Regions from separate parts of the Homo sapiens genome. Here region 2 is linked to region 1. The links come from fine-mapping of genetic effects on gene expression. Tissue or cell type: whole blood. Region 1 holds a variant in brackets; the other region holds the start of a gene. All regions are shown on one strand. Distances are between the middles of the regions.

What was found. PIP is the estimated chance that this variant, and not a neighbour inherited with it, causes the effect.
Region 2: it holds the start of PTGDR, and the variant in region 1 is fine-mapped to the expression of PTGDR in whole blood (TOPMed, PIP above 0.99).

Annotation. Positions count from the first base shown.
Region 1 is chr14:52,180,969-52,189,233 of GRCh38, reverse strand. No RefSeq gene overlaps it. Among named protein-coding and RNA genes, the nearest start is that of LINC02319, 60 kb to the right of the region's middle. The variant G/A (reference allele first, on the strand shown) is at 5,123.
Region 2 is chr14:52,264,293-52,272,292 of GRCh38, reverse strand. It overlaps PTGDR (prostaglandin D2 receptor), which reads right to left and starts at 4,595. Exons shown (of 2, transcript NM_000953.3): 1 at 3,633-4,595. The coding sequence starts at 4,478.

The sequences.
Region 1 (8,265 bases):
CACTCAGAGCATTATAAAGTGAATTTTCAAAAATAAATTAATAAACAAAACCACTTCCCAGACTCCTGAGTAGCTGACATGGGCTCCTCAGCAGAGTTGGTGCTTCAGAGATAACTCTAAACATTCCTTTTGCAATGTAAATGTGAATTTTATCTTAAAATGTTTAATTTATGGCCACATGTGGTGGCTTACTCCTGTAATCCTGGCACCTTGGGAGGCTGAGGGGGGCGGATTGCTTGAAGCCAGGAGTTCAAGATCAGCCTGAGCAACATAGCAAGACCCTGTCTCTACAAAAAATTAAAAAATTAACTAAGTTTGGTCCAAGCTACTCAGGAGGCTGAGGCGGGAGGATCGCCCTAGCCTAGGTGTTGGAGGCTGCAGTGAGCTATGATTGCATCACTGCACTCTAGCCTAGGCAACAGAGAGAGACCCTATCTCAAAAAAATTTAAAAATTAACTAGGCATGGTGACACACACCTATAGTCCTAGCTACTGAGGAGGTTGAGGAGAGAGGATTGTTCTAGCCCAGGTGTTGGAGTCTGCAGTGAGCTATTATTGCACCACTGCATTCTAGCCTAGGCAATAGAGCAAGACTCTGTCTCTACAAAAAATTAAAATATTAGTGGGCATAGTGGCACAAACCTGTGGTCTCAGCTACCCAGGAAGCTGAGTCAAGAGGATCACTCTAGCCCAGAAGTTGGAGGCTACAGTGATCTATGATTGCATCACTGCACTTCAGCCTAGGCAAGAGAGTGAGATCCTGTCTTGAAAAAAAAAGTTTATTTATCAAGGAATTGTGGGACATACCAAGGTCAAATGTAAATCACAGAAAATGTCCAAAGTTTATCATTTTAATTCTTCTCTTAAGGCAGAAAGTTGTGCTATTTTTTAAAATAAAAATGCCAAGTACTTCTTATAATAAATGATCATCATGAAATGTGAAAAAATTAAAAGCTTAATAAAATGATAAAAGGATTTTTCTCTCTGTCACTTTGCAAGCCAGGGACCCCCGGCCGGTGACACCATGCCTGGGCCTCGCTTGGCCATGCTACCTGCTGCAGGAGACTGCCCACTCATTTGGCCCACCCCAGTTGAGTCTGGCTTGCCCACTGCTTCCTGAGTTCTCTTCTAGTGTCCAAGAAGAATGAGGATGCTGACAATCGAAGAGTATACAAGGTGAGAAACAGCTTTCAGCAGGAAGGGGATGTGGGAGTGGTCCCACTACACAAAGGCAGGAAAAGTTCCCTAATATGGCTGAGCCTGGGGCCCTTATGGGCTCAGAATAGGGAGTGCATGCTGATTGGTTTGTGAGTACACAAAAACGGTTAAAGGGAAGACACCACTCAAAGGTGGGCATGATAGTGTAGAAAACCAATTAGGAAAGTGTAGGTATATGTAAAATAGGTGAAGGGTGGGGATTGATCAGAGGAAAGTGCACCAAATGAGAAGACAGGTCCTCAGTGTGGTCCAAGGATTTACCCAGGACTGTCTTCGGCTTGAAGGTGGGGTTTCACTGGGGACCCTTATCTGCCTAGACATTTGGCTGCCTCCTTCCTCTATCAAAAGGACAGTACTGTATCAAATATATGTTTGACAAAGGAAAATATTTTCTATAGCTGTGCTCTGCCTGGCTAGAAAACATAAATTCAGAAATAGACCAGTGAGCATCTTTAACATCCTTTACAGATGTCCCATGGTTATGAGCCACTTAGGCTCAAGTGAACTATCCAAGCAGCAAATGAACCTGGTAGCACAAAAGACAGGCAGAAGATGTGGAGGATAGCTGAGCACAAGCCATGTTACATGTGTTTGCTGATAACTTCTCAGGTTTTTCTAAACATGTGTGCAACTGCATATTCTTAATCTGGTCCATTATGTAATGATATTGCTGTCTTGCCCTATAGTTGGATTTATACTGGTATTTTGATTTGTTTGTGGAAACTAAGAGCTAAAACACTTAGAAATTTAATTTGGCTCTCAGAATCTTTTGTACTCTCATACAAGCACAGCAGTGAAATGCAAAGCACAATTTAAGCATCACGGCCATGGCCATTTGAATTACACCTCTGCTCAGGAGTCACTAAGTTTAAGCAAGCACCTTGACCTGTCTAGGTATCTATGAAAGCAAAATAAAAACCCAATTGACTGTGCAAGAGGAAAAAGATTAAACTGAAAGTTGAGCCATGCAAGAAGCTGCCTTTCCTTTTGTTCTTAAGCAGATAGCTACAGATAAAAGGTTAAATATTTCCACAGGTAGCTACTCTATGCTCATAATCTTATGCAAAGTTCTGATTTACTGAGTGTGAGATGAATACATAGTTGACTGTTCTCCTACCTGCTCCTTTTATCTTGCAACATGTAGATGACCATACCTTCCATCTTTCCCCTTCAGCCTGCTTTCCCCCTTTAAATACTGAAGTCCTCAAAACCGTCTTTGGAGAAAGGTGCAGACCACAGGCTGTTTCTGTGATTCAATGTTCTTTTCTCCTGGGCATGTCCTTAACCTTGGCAAAATAAACTTCTAAATTGACTGAGACCAGTCTCAGATACTTTTTGGTTTACTGATCTGTAAAACTTGACATTAATTTTCTATCTTTACATATCATCAACCTAGAAGAGATAACGTGACAGTTATTTTAGCTTTTCAGAAAAAATGTGCTGGGTCAATATAAAATAAAGTTGAGCTAATATTAAATATTGCTCTCTTTACAGCCATGTCTATAATTATGCAATATGTACTTTTCATCCAGATGCCTAAAAAATACCTAATTAAGTGAATTTATTAGTTTTTATCTCATAATAGTAAATTTACTGTGGCAAAGGAATACTTTTTAAAATTAGCTTTTCAGTATTTCATTAGAATTTTAAAACTTCTTTGACTTTTAAAAAATTAAATAATCCAAATATTATTAAAAGCAAAATGCAGGGGTTTTCCTGCTGCCCCTCTGAGTTTAGGAGCAGCTGTCCTGCTCCATGGTTGCCCCCTTGATGGAACTGGAAGTTGCCTGCCTGTCTTCTCTTTTTTCTTCCATTTCTTCTTCAGACTCTTCCTTGGCTTAGCACACCTGACTCCCTTCCACATCAGGGATAAATGCATACAGGGAGGGGAAAGTGGAGAAGGAGGGACCATGCAACTCGTCCAACTCCTCTCCCCATTCGTGGACAAGCTCTTCACCATTCCCTCTCCACTCATATAGACTCCCTGGTCTTTCCATTGTCTTCAGTCTCTCAAATCCCACCTTATTTGTGTTGTTTCCAATTTTTCTTGACAATTACAAATAAAGCTTCTATAAACATTTATATACAGGTTATTGTGTGAACTAAATCTTCATTTCTCTGGGATAAATGGCCAGGAGTGTAACTGTTGGGTTGTATGATTGTTGCATGTTTGAATTTTAAAGGCAGGCCAGTCACGGTGGCTCATGCCTGTGATCCCAGCACTTTGCAAGGCCGAGATGGGAGGATTGCCTGAGGTCAGGCGTTTGAGACCATCCTGGTCAACATGGTAAAACCCTGTCTATACTAAAAATACAAAAATTAGCTGGGTGTGGTGGTGGTTGCCTGTGGTCCTGGCTACTTGGGAGGCTGAGGCAGGAGAGTCGCTTGAACCTGGGAGGCAGAGGTTGCAGTGAGGTGAGATTGCACCACCGCACTCCAGCCTGGGCAACAGTGTGAGACTCTGTCTCAAAAACAAATAAATAAATAAATAAAAACAAAATAAAATAAAATAAATTTAAAGGAAACTGCCAGATTGTTTTTTCCCAGAATGGCTGTCACATTTTGCATTCACACAAGCAATTTCTCCACATCCTTTCCAGCATTTGGTGTTGTGACTAATTTTTGTTTTAGCCATTTTGAAAGACATGTAACGGTATCTCATTGTGGTTTTAATTTGCATCTCCCTCATGACTAATGATCTGGAATATCTTTTCAGGTACTTACTTGCCATAAGCATATTTTCTTTAGTGAAATGTCTATTGCCTTAATACGGTTTGGATCTGTGTCCCACCAAATTTCATGTCAGATTGTAATCCCCAGTGTTGGAGGTGCGGCCCTGTGTGAGGTGATTGAACCATGGGGGCAGTTTCTCATGATTTAATGCTATACGCCTTGGTGCTGTCATCATGATAGTGAGTGCTCATAAGATCTGGTTGTTTAAAAGTGTGTGGAACCTGTCCTCCTCCCTTTGTCCTGCTCCAGCCATGTGAAGTACCTCACTCCCCCTTTGCCTTCTGCCATAATTGGAAGCTTCCTGAAGCCTCCCTAGAAGCAGAAGCCACTATGCTTCGTGTACAGCCTGCAGAACTGTGAGCCAATTAAACCTCTTTTCTTTATAAATTACCCAGTCTCAGGTATTTCTTTATAGCAGTCCCAGAATGGACTAACACAGCCTGTAGATTGTTTGCTTTTTTAATGTTGAGTTTTGAGGATTCTTTATACACCCTAGATACTAGTCTTTGTCAGATGCGTGGTTTGTAAATATTTTTCCCAGTATGTGGCTTGTCTTTTCTTCATCTTACCAGGACTTTATGAAGCAAAAGCATTTAATTTTGATGAAGTTCAAATTTACCAATTTTTGCTTCTGTAGATTTTGTTTTCGGTGACAAGTCTAAGAGATCTTTGCCTAGCCCTAGATCTCGAACATTTTCTCCTTTATTTTTGGAAAAGTTTAATAGTTTCATGTTAGCGTTTAACTAACATGACCCATTTTGAGTTCACTTTTGCATGAGGTGTGAGGTTTAGGGCATTGTTTATTGTGTACCCATAGATGTACAATTGCTTTAGCACCATTTGTTTGCAAAGCCATCTTTTCTCCATTGAGTTAATTTTTTTTATCTTTGTCAAAAATCAATTTGGGCACATTTGTATGGGTCTATTTCTGGGTTCTCTAACTTGTTCTACAGATCCATATGTCTAACCCTCCACTAATACCACACAGTCTTAATTCCTGTAGCTTTATAGTAAGTCTCAAAATCAGGTAGACTGATTTCTCCCATTTTATTGTTCCTTTTCAAAATTGTTTTAGCTATTCTAGTGTTTTGTTGTTTCCTATAAACCCAAAAATAATCTTACCTCTATCCATAAAATACTTGAGATTTTGATAGGAATGGCACTAAACTGG[G/A]ATATCAATTTGGGAGAACGGACATCTGTACTAGAGTGAGTCTTCTATTACATAAGCACAGAATATCTCTTCATTTATTTAGATCTTCCTTACTTTCTTCATCAGTATTATGTAGTTTTCAGTACACGAGTCCCATACATGTTTTGTTAGATTGAAAACTAAGTTTTTCTCTTTTTTTGAATGATTATAAATGTTGGTGTATATGTTTGTTGCTAATATATAGAAATATAATTTATTTTGTATATTTATCTTGTATACCACAACTTTATTGAATTCACTTATTAGCTTTAGGAGCTTTTTGGTAGTGCCCTTGAGATTTTCTGTGTATGTCATCTGCAAACATGGACAGTTTTATTTATTCCTCTCTGATCTGTACATTTTTGTTTCATTTTACTTTTTTGTCTTAATGCACTGAATAGGAAGCTCCAGCATTGTGTGGAATAAAAGTGGTGATAGTAGGCATCCTTGCCCAGTTCTTAGGGAAGAACTTAGGTGAAAAGCACTCAGCCTTTCACTACTAAGTATAGTGATGTTAAGTTGTGGGTTTTTTGTAGACATTCTTTATCAAGTTAAGGAAGCTCTCCTTTACTCCTATTTTTCTAAGAGGTCTTTTCCCCCTAAAGATCATGTATTTGTCAAATAATTTTTCTGCATCAATTGATACCTTGGTCCATTTTATGTTGCTATAAAAGAATACCTGAGGCTGGGCAATTTATTAAAAAAAGAGATTTATTTCACTCACAATTCTGCAGGCTGGGAAGTTCAAGAGCATTGCACCACATTGGCTGCCTTCTGGTGGGGGCTGTTTGCTGGGACAAAATGTGGTAGAGAGGTGGAAAATCAAGCAGGCATGTGCAAAGTGATCACATGGTGAGAGAGGAAGCAAGAGAGAGTCTAGGAAGCCAAACTCCCTTTGACAACAACCCACTCTCTGGAGAGTGAGAATTCATTCACTCCCGTGGGAAAGCATTAATCTATTCATCAGTGACCCACCTCAATGACCCAAACACCTTCCACTAGGCCCCACCTTCCAACACCACTACACTGGGGATCAAATTTCACAATGAGTTTTAGCAGAAACAAACCACATCCAAACTATAGCAACTGATATGAACGTGTGATGTTTTTTCTTCCTTAGCCTGTTAATATGATGGATTTCACTGACTGACTTTCATACATTGAACCAGATTGCATCACTGGAAGAAACTCCACTTGGTTATGGTGATTATTTTTTCTATGTATTATGTATTATGATCAGCTTTTTATATATTGCTAAATTTTGTTTGCTCATATTTTAGAAGCAATTTTGCATTTATAATTGTATTAATCTGTTATCATGTTGCTAATAAAGACATACCAGAGACTAGGTAATTTATAGAGGAAAGAGGTTTAATGGACTCACAGTTCCATATGGCTAGGGAGGCCTCACAATCATGGTGGAAAGTGAATGAGGAGCAAAGTTACATCTTACATAGCGGCACTCAAGTGGACATGTGCAGTGGAACTCGCCTTTATAAAACTATCAGACCTCATGAAACTTATTCACTATCACAAGAACAGCATGGGAAATACTCAACCCTATGATTTAATTACCTCCCATTGAGTCCCTCCTATGACACATGGGGATTATTACAATTCAAGGTGAGATTTGGGTTGGCGCACAGAGCCAAACCATATCAATAGTCATGAAGAATAATGGTCTCCAGCTCTACCTCTGGAGGCAACTTTCTTCCCAATAACTTCTTCTGGGTCTTCTCTATTATTTATTGCCAAGTCAAAAAATAAAACAATGCATAGAATTTATTTCATGAGAGAGCCAATTCAAACCTCAAAATCCTGAGGTATGCATTGAGACTGATAACATACTCAAATTCATATCTAAAGTAAAAATACTGTTGTCATTTTGTATTATTGAAATTTTTTTTGATAATCTTATGATGGCTTCTAAAACACATCAAATGACTAATTAAAATTTACATAAATTCTCATTTTTGTGTTATGCTTGATTAATAAAGACACCAACCAATCTACCTGATATGGTTTGACTCTGTGTCCCCACCCAAATCTCACCTTGAATTGTAACTCCCTAGAGTTGAATTGGAACTTCCTAGAGACCTGTTGAATGGCTTTGACCAAAATGCTGATTGTGATATGGACAATAAGGTCCAGGCTGAGGTGGTCTCAGATAAAGATGAGAAACTTGCTAGGAACTGGAGTAAAGGTCACTCTTGTTATGCAAAGAGATCAGTGGCATTTTGCCCCTGCCCTAGAGATCTGTGGAACTTTGAATTTGAGAGAGATTATTTAGGGTATCTGGTGGAAGAAATTTCTAAGTGGCAAAGTGTTCAAGGTAAAGCAGAACATAAAAATTTGGAAAATTTGCAGCCAGACAATGTGATAGTAAAGAAAAAAACTTTCTGGGAAGAAATTCAAGCCTGCTGCAGAAATTTGCATAAGTAGCAAGGAGCTGAATGTTAATCACCCAGGCAATGGGGAAATATCTCCAGGGTGTGTCAGAGACCTTTGCAGCAGCCCTTCCCATCACAGGCCCGGAGGCCTAGGTGGAAAAAATCATTTTGTGGGCTGGGCCCAGGACCCCCTGCTGTGTGCAGCCTAGGGACTTGGCGCCCTGAGTACCAGCCACTCCAGCTGTGGCTAAAAGGGGCCAAGGTACAGCTGGGGCCATGGCTTCAGAGGGTGCAAGGCCCAAAGCTTGGCAGCTTCCACATGGTATTGAACCTGTGGGTGCGTGGAAGTCAAAAATTGAGGTTTAGTAACCTCTGCCTAGACTTCAGAGGATGTATGGAAATGCCTGGATGTCCAGGCAGAAGTTTGCTGCGGGGGCAGAGCCCTCATGGAGAACCTCTGTTAGGGCAATGCAGAAGGGAAATGTGGGGTTGGAGCCCCCACACAGAGTCCCCACTGGGGCACTGCCTAGTGGAGCTGTGAGAAGAGGGCCACCATCCTTCAGACCCCAGAATGGTAGATCCACTGATAACTTGCACCATGAACCTGGAAGAGCTGCAGACACTTAACATGGGAAAGCAGCCAGGAGTGGGGGGTGTACCCTGCAAAGCCACAGAGGTGGAGCTGCCCAAGGCCATGGTAGCCCACTTCTTGCATCAGCGTGACCTGGATTTGAG
Region 2 (8,000 bases), 83 kb before region 1:
TCTCACTGTGTTGCCCAGGCTGGTCTCAAACACCTGGGCTCAAACAGTCCTCCTGATTTGGCCTCCCAAAATGCTACGATTACAAGTGTGAGCCACCAGCCCCAATGAACAATACATTTCTAATACAAATCCAGTGACTTGAATGTCAACCTAATGGATTTGACATGGATAAATGCTGCCTAGAAAATAAAATAATTTGTTTTAATTATGCTAGTATCATTCAGTTGTCTAGATCCCAACTAATCAAGCATTCTCAAATAGTTGGAACTATATTTTGCCACACTCCACTTTGAGGAGAAAGGGGCAAATAGAAAAAAAACTCATGTAAAATGTTTTCTTTTTAAGTCAACTTAACCATATAGCTTATTGTCACCCATGTCTCCCCCTTCAGATAAAGATACAATTGCTAGGTCCATTACTTAGAAGAGTGTAAAATCTCCAATACCTATTCAATGTGTCCAGTAGGTCAAAACTACTGTCATTACAAACATGTGATTTGCCTTTTTCCCCTTCATTCTCTCACAAGTGTACAGTGAATTTTATGGAGGCTAGATAACAAATGATGACATCACTTTCACAAAGAATAGAATATGTGGTTGTTTATCCTTGTGTTTTCTAGACCTTTTAAGGTGGCAGGTTGAGGGTACACACGTGAATTTTCAGAGACTGTTTTCAGTACTTTTGTGCTCTTAACAGGATTTTTCCACTTTACTTGCTATAATCTCTGTAACCTTATTGTCATCAAATCATTGTGAAATCCCCACATTTTCCTTGTACATATGGAAAACACAAGAGGTACATTTTATCTTGTTTTGCAATCATATGTTTAGAATTTCTTAGTTTTATTTTCTAATATGAGAAATACTGATGATTTAATCCACATAAAAGCCATCTGGGTCATTAATAATTTTAAGAGTATAAAGGGGTCCTTAGACCAAAAAAAAGTTTCAGAGCCACTGCCTTAGTATATAGCACTATCTCCTGGGACGATAATCGTTCTTGATTTTTTTTTATGTCCAGCAGGCAACAATAATACATGGAAGTTATAAATAGTAATAATAATGATGCTAATATATTGAGGCAAGACACTGGGCTAGGTGATGAATGTATATATTATGTATGTAATTTCAAATCTTCATTACTATCTTACAAAACAAGTATGGTTATAATCATTTTACAGATGAGGAAACTGAGGTCAGAAAGGGTAAATTAGCTGCTACCATAGCTAGTAAGTGATGAAGCCTGATTCAAAACCATGTCTGATGCTAAAGCCCTTATCCTCTCTAGAAAATAGTGGTTCTTGTGAAGAATGCTGTCAACATTAAATATATTTGGAACTTGCTAGTTTTTTTGGAAAATCTTTTTCAACTCCATTGATTTTCTTCAATCCTCACAATACCCTAGGAGTTATCCAAGTCTCCGTAGAGACATGTCCAAATGCAATGTTCTTTCCACTGTATGATGCTGCTTTCTGCATTGGTCTGACTAAAACATTCAAACTCAGGTCAAAATTTCCATGCATTTGGCTACTGTCTACTTTGTCACAGCATAGATAAGTGAGGCCCCAACTTTACAATAGGAGCTCCTAAAGATTGTATAAAGGACCAGATAGTAACTATTTTAGGTTTTATGGCCAAGAGACAAAATCATAAATATTTGATAGGTACTAATATAACATGGGAGAAAACACATTTCCACAATTTTTTGATGGAATTCAAAATGTATTAATAATTGAGTACAATTTTTTTTTTAGATGGAGTCTTGCTCTGTCGCCCAGGCTGGAGTGCAGTGACACAGTCTTGGCTCACTGCAACCTCTGCCTCCCAGGTTCAAGCGATTCTCCTGCCTCAGCCTCCTGAGAAGCTGGGACTACAAGTGCATGCCACCACGCCCAGGTAATTTTTGTATTTTTAGAGACGGGGTTTCACCATGTTGGCCAGGATGGTCTCGATCTCTTGACCTCATGATCTGCCCGCCTCGGCCTCCCAAAGTGCTGTGATTACAGGCGTGAGTCACCGCTCCCGGCTGAGTACAATTTTTTTGTAATATGTATCTACTAAGGAGAAGAATAAAACGTTTTCTTGGAACAGTATTTTTCTTGAAATAGTATTTGGCTCAATTGAAGCTCAAAACTCTTGGGTCTCATCAAATTGATTGCAGAGATTCATTTGTAAGAATTATTCTTAACTCCAGGGAGATGTAAAACAGTGGCCAGGAAAGATTTGGCCTGTGAGCTGTGGTTTGCTAACTCCTGTTTTAGAGTGTGATTCTACAAATGTGAACCCTGAATCTGAGCTTGCATATCACCTGGGAACTTGTTAAGAATGAAAATTCTTTAAAAATGTCTGAATTAGAAACTCTGGGGAATGGGGTCCAGCCATCTTTTTTTCTAGAAGCCTTGCTGGTGATTCTGAGCTGGTGATTCTGAAGACCACTGCTATATGTCATCTGCGCCTATATCTACATTTAGATAGATATAGATTTATGTATTTGTTTATTTATTTTGGGGGCATACTGTTCCCACCCCTGCATGCTGATGCCCCAGACTTCTTTTTCCGCAAGCAGTAAGGCCTTCATTTAAAGGAAAATCGCTTTGTATTTCCCTTTCATTCACCATTGAAAGTAATATCCAAAATGGCTACATTCTGAGAAGAAATTTAACAACTTTCCTATTCACAGAAGTCTCAGGATTTCGAGAACGTGGGATTGGCAATGGAATTTCTGTAAGTATTGTTTTTGTTGAACAGGTACCTTGGGAGAAAGGAGAGGAGCAGCACTGAAAATGTTTCCTCAAGCCTCACCTACTCCCAGGTGTCTTGGCGGGGACTCCAGGAACAAATGCCTTCAAAATGAGGAGATAATTTCATTTCCATCGCTATCCTCATTACCAAATTGAAACCGGAGATAATGGCTTTCATGTCACCTCACTTGCCAAGATACACTCAAAACCCGTCAAGTCAGGTTGTCAAAACGACACCAGCAGCTAAAACATACAAAGAGCCTCGGCCTCCATCGCCACAATCCCTGGCGGATGCAGCACCAGAAACAGCAGCCGTGGCGTCTCAAAGTTTACGCACGCGTTTTTCAAAATTAAAACTATGCATCTGCAAATCACTCTGGCTGGCTTAAACCTCTTTTTCCCTTTCTATGCCAACACCGGGGAGAAGATCGTCCCAGACGCCATTCGCCCATTTCTGATACCACTGAAGTCATGAGCAGGTCTAACAAAATAAAACATCACCCAGCCGTCGGGAAGTAGAAGACTCCTGTTGCCAAGGAGAAACTAAGTTCTGCTCCTCCTAAGGCGCAAAAATGACCTCGAGATCTCCCCAGAAGGAAGCAGAGAGGAGGGAGTTCTGCCACATGGAGAGGGTTTTGCTGGGCTAGGGAGACACCGCCGGGCTCAGCCTTTCCCTTCCTTTCTCTAACTTTCCCTCATTTCGCTCCGCAAACTGAGTTATATCTCGGGGCTGTGGAAGGAATCCAATTTGGGGAACTCAGCAGCAAACCTTCCTGGCCCAGGGCGCAGCTCGCCTGGCGCCGCGTCCATCCCGATCCGCTCCACCCTTCCCGCCCCGCATCCGCGGCCGGACAGTCTCAGTGCCCTGCTGCCTCGGGGCCCGGGGACTCACAATTACGGGCAGAGAACACATAGTGAAGAGCACGGTCATCAGCGCCAGCAGCAGGAGGTGATCCAGCTCCTCCAGGGGCTGAGGGGACGCTTCCCTCCCGTCCGCGCGCGGCTCGGCACAGTCCCTGGTGCAGGAGCGCGGGTGCCGCTGCAGCCGCCGGTGCATCGCATAGAGGTTGCGCATGGCGCCGAGGTTGCACAGCACGGTGGCGAGGACCAGCAGCGCCATGAGGCTGGAGTAGAGCACAGAGTACCCCAGCACCGACAGCGAGCCCTCCTCGTGGACCATCTGGATAAAGCACCAGGTGCCGGGGCAGTACTGCACGAACTTCCCGAAGCCCATGAAAGGTAGCGCGCAGAAAGCCAGGGAGAAGGCGCTCACCACCGGGGCCACCAGTGCGCCCAGGCGCAGGGTGATGTGCCGTCGGTAGAAGAAAGGGTGCCCTAGGGAGAGCCAGCACTCCAGTGCCATGGCCAGGAGTTGCAGTGTCGAGGAGAGCCCAAAGAAGGACATGAAGAAGGCGAAGGCTTGGCACAACGAGTTGTCCAATGCGGGCGCAAGCACCCGCAGACTCCGGTTCTGAGCGTAGGCAGCCAGCACCACCGGGCTTAGGAGGCACTTGCCCAGCAAGTCGGTGACCGTCAGGCCACACACCAGCATGTAGAAGACCGAGGGCAGCGGGCGCAGTGGACGCCGCGAGCACCACCCCAGCCCCGAGCGCGCCAGCAGCCCCAGGGCCAGCAGGTTGCCCAGGAGGCCGGTGCTGAAGAGCACCCCGCCCATCACCGCCGAGTTGCCTTTTTCCACAGAGGTGGTGTTCTGGCAGCGGTAGAACGGCGACTTCATGGCGTGCGGGAGCAGAGGGCTGGAGTGAAGGCTGCGGAAGGGCGAGGGCCCCGGCGCCCGGGTGCTAAGGAGCCCCCGGCAGCTCCGCGCGCGGCTCGGGCGGAGAAGCTGCGCCACAGAAAAAGCTCCGAGGGCGGCGGGGTGTTCCCCACGGCAGGAACCTCCTATCTAAACTCGCGGGTCACACCCCTCTTTGAGAGGCGGGACGCTCTGCAGGGTGAGCGCCTGGCGCTGGCATTGAAGAGCGCGGAGCAGGCCAGTGAAGAGCTCGGCCCTGACGCGCTGCGTTCTCAGTAGAGACAGACTCTGGTGCCGAGTCGGAACGGCAGGAGGAAAATAGCCAGAATTCCAAGCACCCAACACCAGTCCTTCTAGCGAGGCAAGAGAAGAACTACTAAAGTGGAGGGGAAATTAAGCAGCAGCCACCTGAGAGGAGGGCAATGGTGCTGGTGTTTGAACTGGGGTGGCCAAGAACTCGAAAGATGAGCGAAGAGGGGAGGCTGAGAAAGGGCTTCTACCTAGTTGTCTTGAATTAGCTAGTCAAGGAAAGGTAAAGATAACTCACGTCTGGAAAGCCCCTGAGCCTTAGCTCCTCTTCTCTACTAGATCAGCGCAATTTGGGGCATTCACGGTCATCTCCATTGCATAGGCGAGGAAACTGAGGCCTTGGAAAGTTAAGTGATCTGCCCGTGGTGACAGAGCTACAGAAGTAGCAGAGCCGGACCTCTCACCCGATCTTCTATTTTGGAGTTCATCTGTCCTGTTCCCATGACTCCTCCTCCCAAGAAGTTGTCCAGATTTCAGGGAAGTGGTTTGTGGGAAAGCCAAGAGCCGGTGTTGGTCCTGGGTGCCATGAATCACATTGACTGTAGAGAGCTGGGGGGAAGGGCATGGTTAGCAGCACTGTTGCTGTCATCAGATAGGCCTGGGTTTGAGTCCAGGTTCTGCTCCTCACTGTGTGTGTGACCTTATGGGACTTGCTTAGCCTCTCAAGCAGTAACATCTATCTGGCCTGCTTGGCTCTTCTGAGGCATAGAAATAACACGTAAAGAGCAAGTACATAGAAAGTGCTCAATTCATGCAATCACCATGATTCTTATTTGATAGAAGGGTGTTTTGGTAGCTGATGTTTAACTGCAGTTTTTAGCATGGATTTTGAAATCAGAAAATGGTAGATTTGGCATAGAGCTTTCTCACTCCTCTGATTTGTGGCTACTAGAAAAAATTTATTCCTGTTTGGGCTTTGACTTGGCTGCATCATAAAGGCAAGGGAGTTAATTGTGATAAGCGTGATTTTATATCTTTAACTAGCATTCGATGCCCTGTGAGAGAAATTGGCTTTGAGTGTGGAATCTCAGTGGGATGACTAAGGTTTTGTTATGTAAGTGAGTAGATGATGCCTGGGCTTGAAACGGCTCATTTTTAGGCCTCATGCCAGTTCTGATGGACAGACTCAGGGAAAGAGCAAGACCCTTGGGATTTAGATGTGAAAGCCTGAAGGGTAGACAGAGAGGCTGCCTCCAGACTGAAAGTCTGGCCAGTAATTCAGGCCACAGGGTGGAAAAGAAGAATCTAAGCTTGGAATTAGATAGTTCTGAACTCCACCACTGGCTGTGTGACCCTGGGTTAGTTGTTCAACCTAATGGAATATGAGACTTATGCTGAACTTGTGGGGTTGTTGTGAGGTTGAGAAAACTTGAAGTGCTTTGGCATAGTGTAATAATAATAATAAGAGCTAATATTTATTGGTCCTGATGCAGGTTGGACACTCTCTAAGCCTTTCACTTATATTGACTCAATAGAAGGCCTTGTATAGAGTTAGTTCCCTTGTCTTCTACCTACTCTCTCTCATTCCCATCTCTAGCCCCTAGCACATAAGAATGGGTTTAGAAGAGCCCCACTCGACTTAATGAAGTGAAAGGAAGAGCAGGCCCCATAACCAAAAGACATGAGAATTTGATGAAAGCTGTGGTCTCCTCCATAGACAGACAGACACACACACACACACAGGCACACACACACAGACACACACGCAGACACACACACACACACTTTACATCAATCTCAGGCTGTTCACCATTTCCTGAAGCCCTTCTATGGTACCCAGAGGAGACCCAATGGACACTAGCTTAAGAATCCTTCCTCTAAAAATATTGCATGGGTTGTTCTTCTGAAGCATACCTACTTCAATTCTTTGCAGCTTTATTTTCATGCTACAGTGGCTTACAACTCCGTATTTATCCTAGGAACCCTAAGATTACAAATACCTTTTAAAGAAAACAACCCCAAAGTGTGACTGTTGGGCCAGCTGTGGGTCCTTGATAAGGTTTACATACATCATGCTTTAAGGTTGAAGGTTTTGAACAAGTGCAATTCAGGAAACCACACGTTTCCTCTCAGCCACTGTAGCTGGCCTTTACGATGGGGTTTCCGGTTGCCTTTCCTGATTGCTTTGCTGGTGTCCACCCTACCCTGTTCTCAGGCCTAACTTTGGAGTCTTCTGTCCCAGTTCCCGAGAAATTCTATTTTGTAATTTCACCATACAACCAAGAAAAGTATCATTTGTTCATGCGTCAAATAGTTTTTGCGCTCCTACTCTGTGCCAAGCATGGGGGTGAGGGGATGAAGCATGTGGGCACTGAGGGGCATACAACAGATAAGGAAAGGCAAACATCATGTCGTGTGACCTCTACAGGCTTATACATTTTTATATCAGCTTTCAGAGTAACCAGGCTAAGTACATTTTTTCCTTAAAAGGGAAACCTTTAATGAAAATATCTTAGGCTAAGTTAGTGGTAAAATTACCTCCATTATCTACAGAGCTGTACCAGGCTGCTTAATTGGGTTATAGGACAAATCTTCTGAAAATATATGACATCATGTGGATGACTATTTTAAATATATAATTATATTATGGCAATATAAACATAAAAATCATAGATTCTCATGGACAAGGCTCAGAAGCTGACATAGGCAAATGAAAACATTCACTTAGACTTGAGAAGGGATGGCAGAAAAATATCTCCTTGGTTTCTGATATTTTCAATGTTGTATATGTAATAATTATTTTAAAAGACTTTAAATGTAAAACAAGTGATATGGTTTGGTTCTGTCCCCACCCAAGTCTCATCTTGAATGTAGCTCCTATAATTCCCATGTGGTCATGGGAGGGAACTGATGAAATGTAATTAATCATGGGGGCAGGTCTTTCCCATGCTGTTCTGTGATAGTGAATAAGTCTCACAACATCTGATGGTTTTATAAAGGAGAGTTCCCCTACACAAGTTCTCTCTTGCCTGCTGCCATGTAAGACGTGACTGCTCCTCATCCACCTTCTGCCATTATTGTGAGGCCTCCCCAGCCATGTGGAACTGTGAGTCAGTTGGACCTCTTTCCTTTATAAATTACCCAGTCTCAGGTATGTCTTTATTAGCAGCATGAGAACAGACTAATACAAGAAATGTATGCTTATGGTGGGGATCTAGGAAGGGGAAAAGAAGGAAAAAGGAACATTTATTTTTT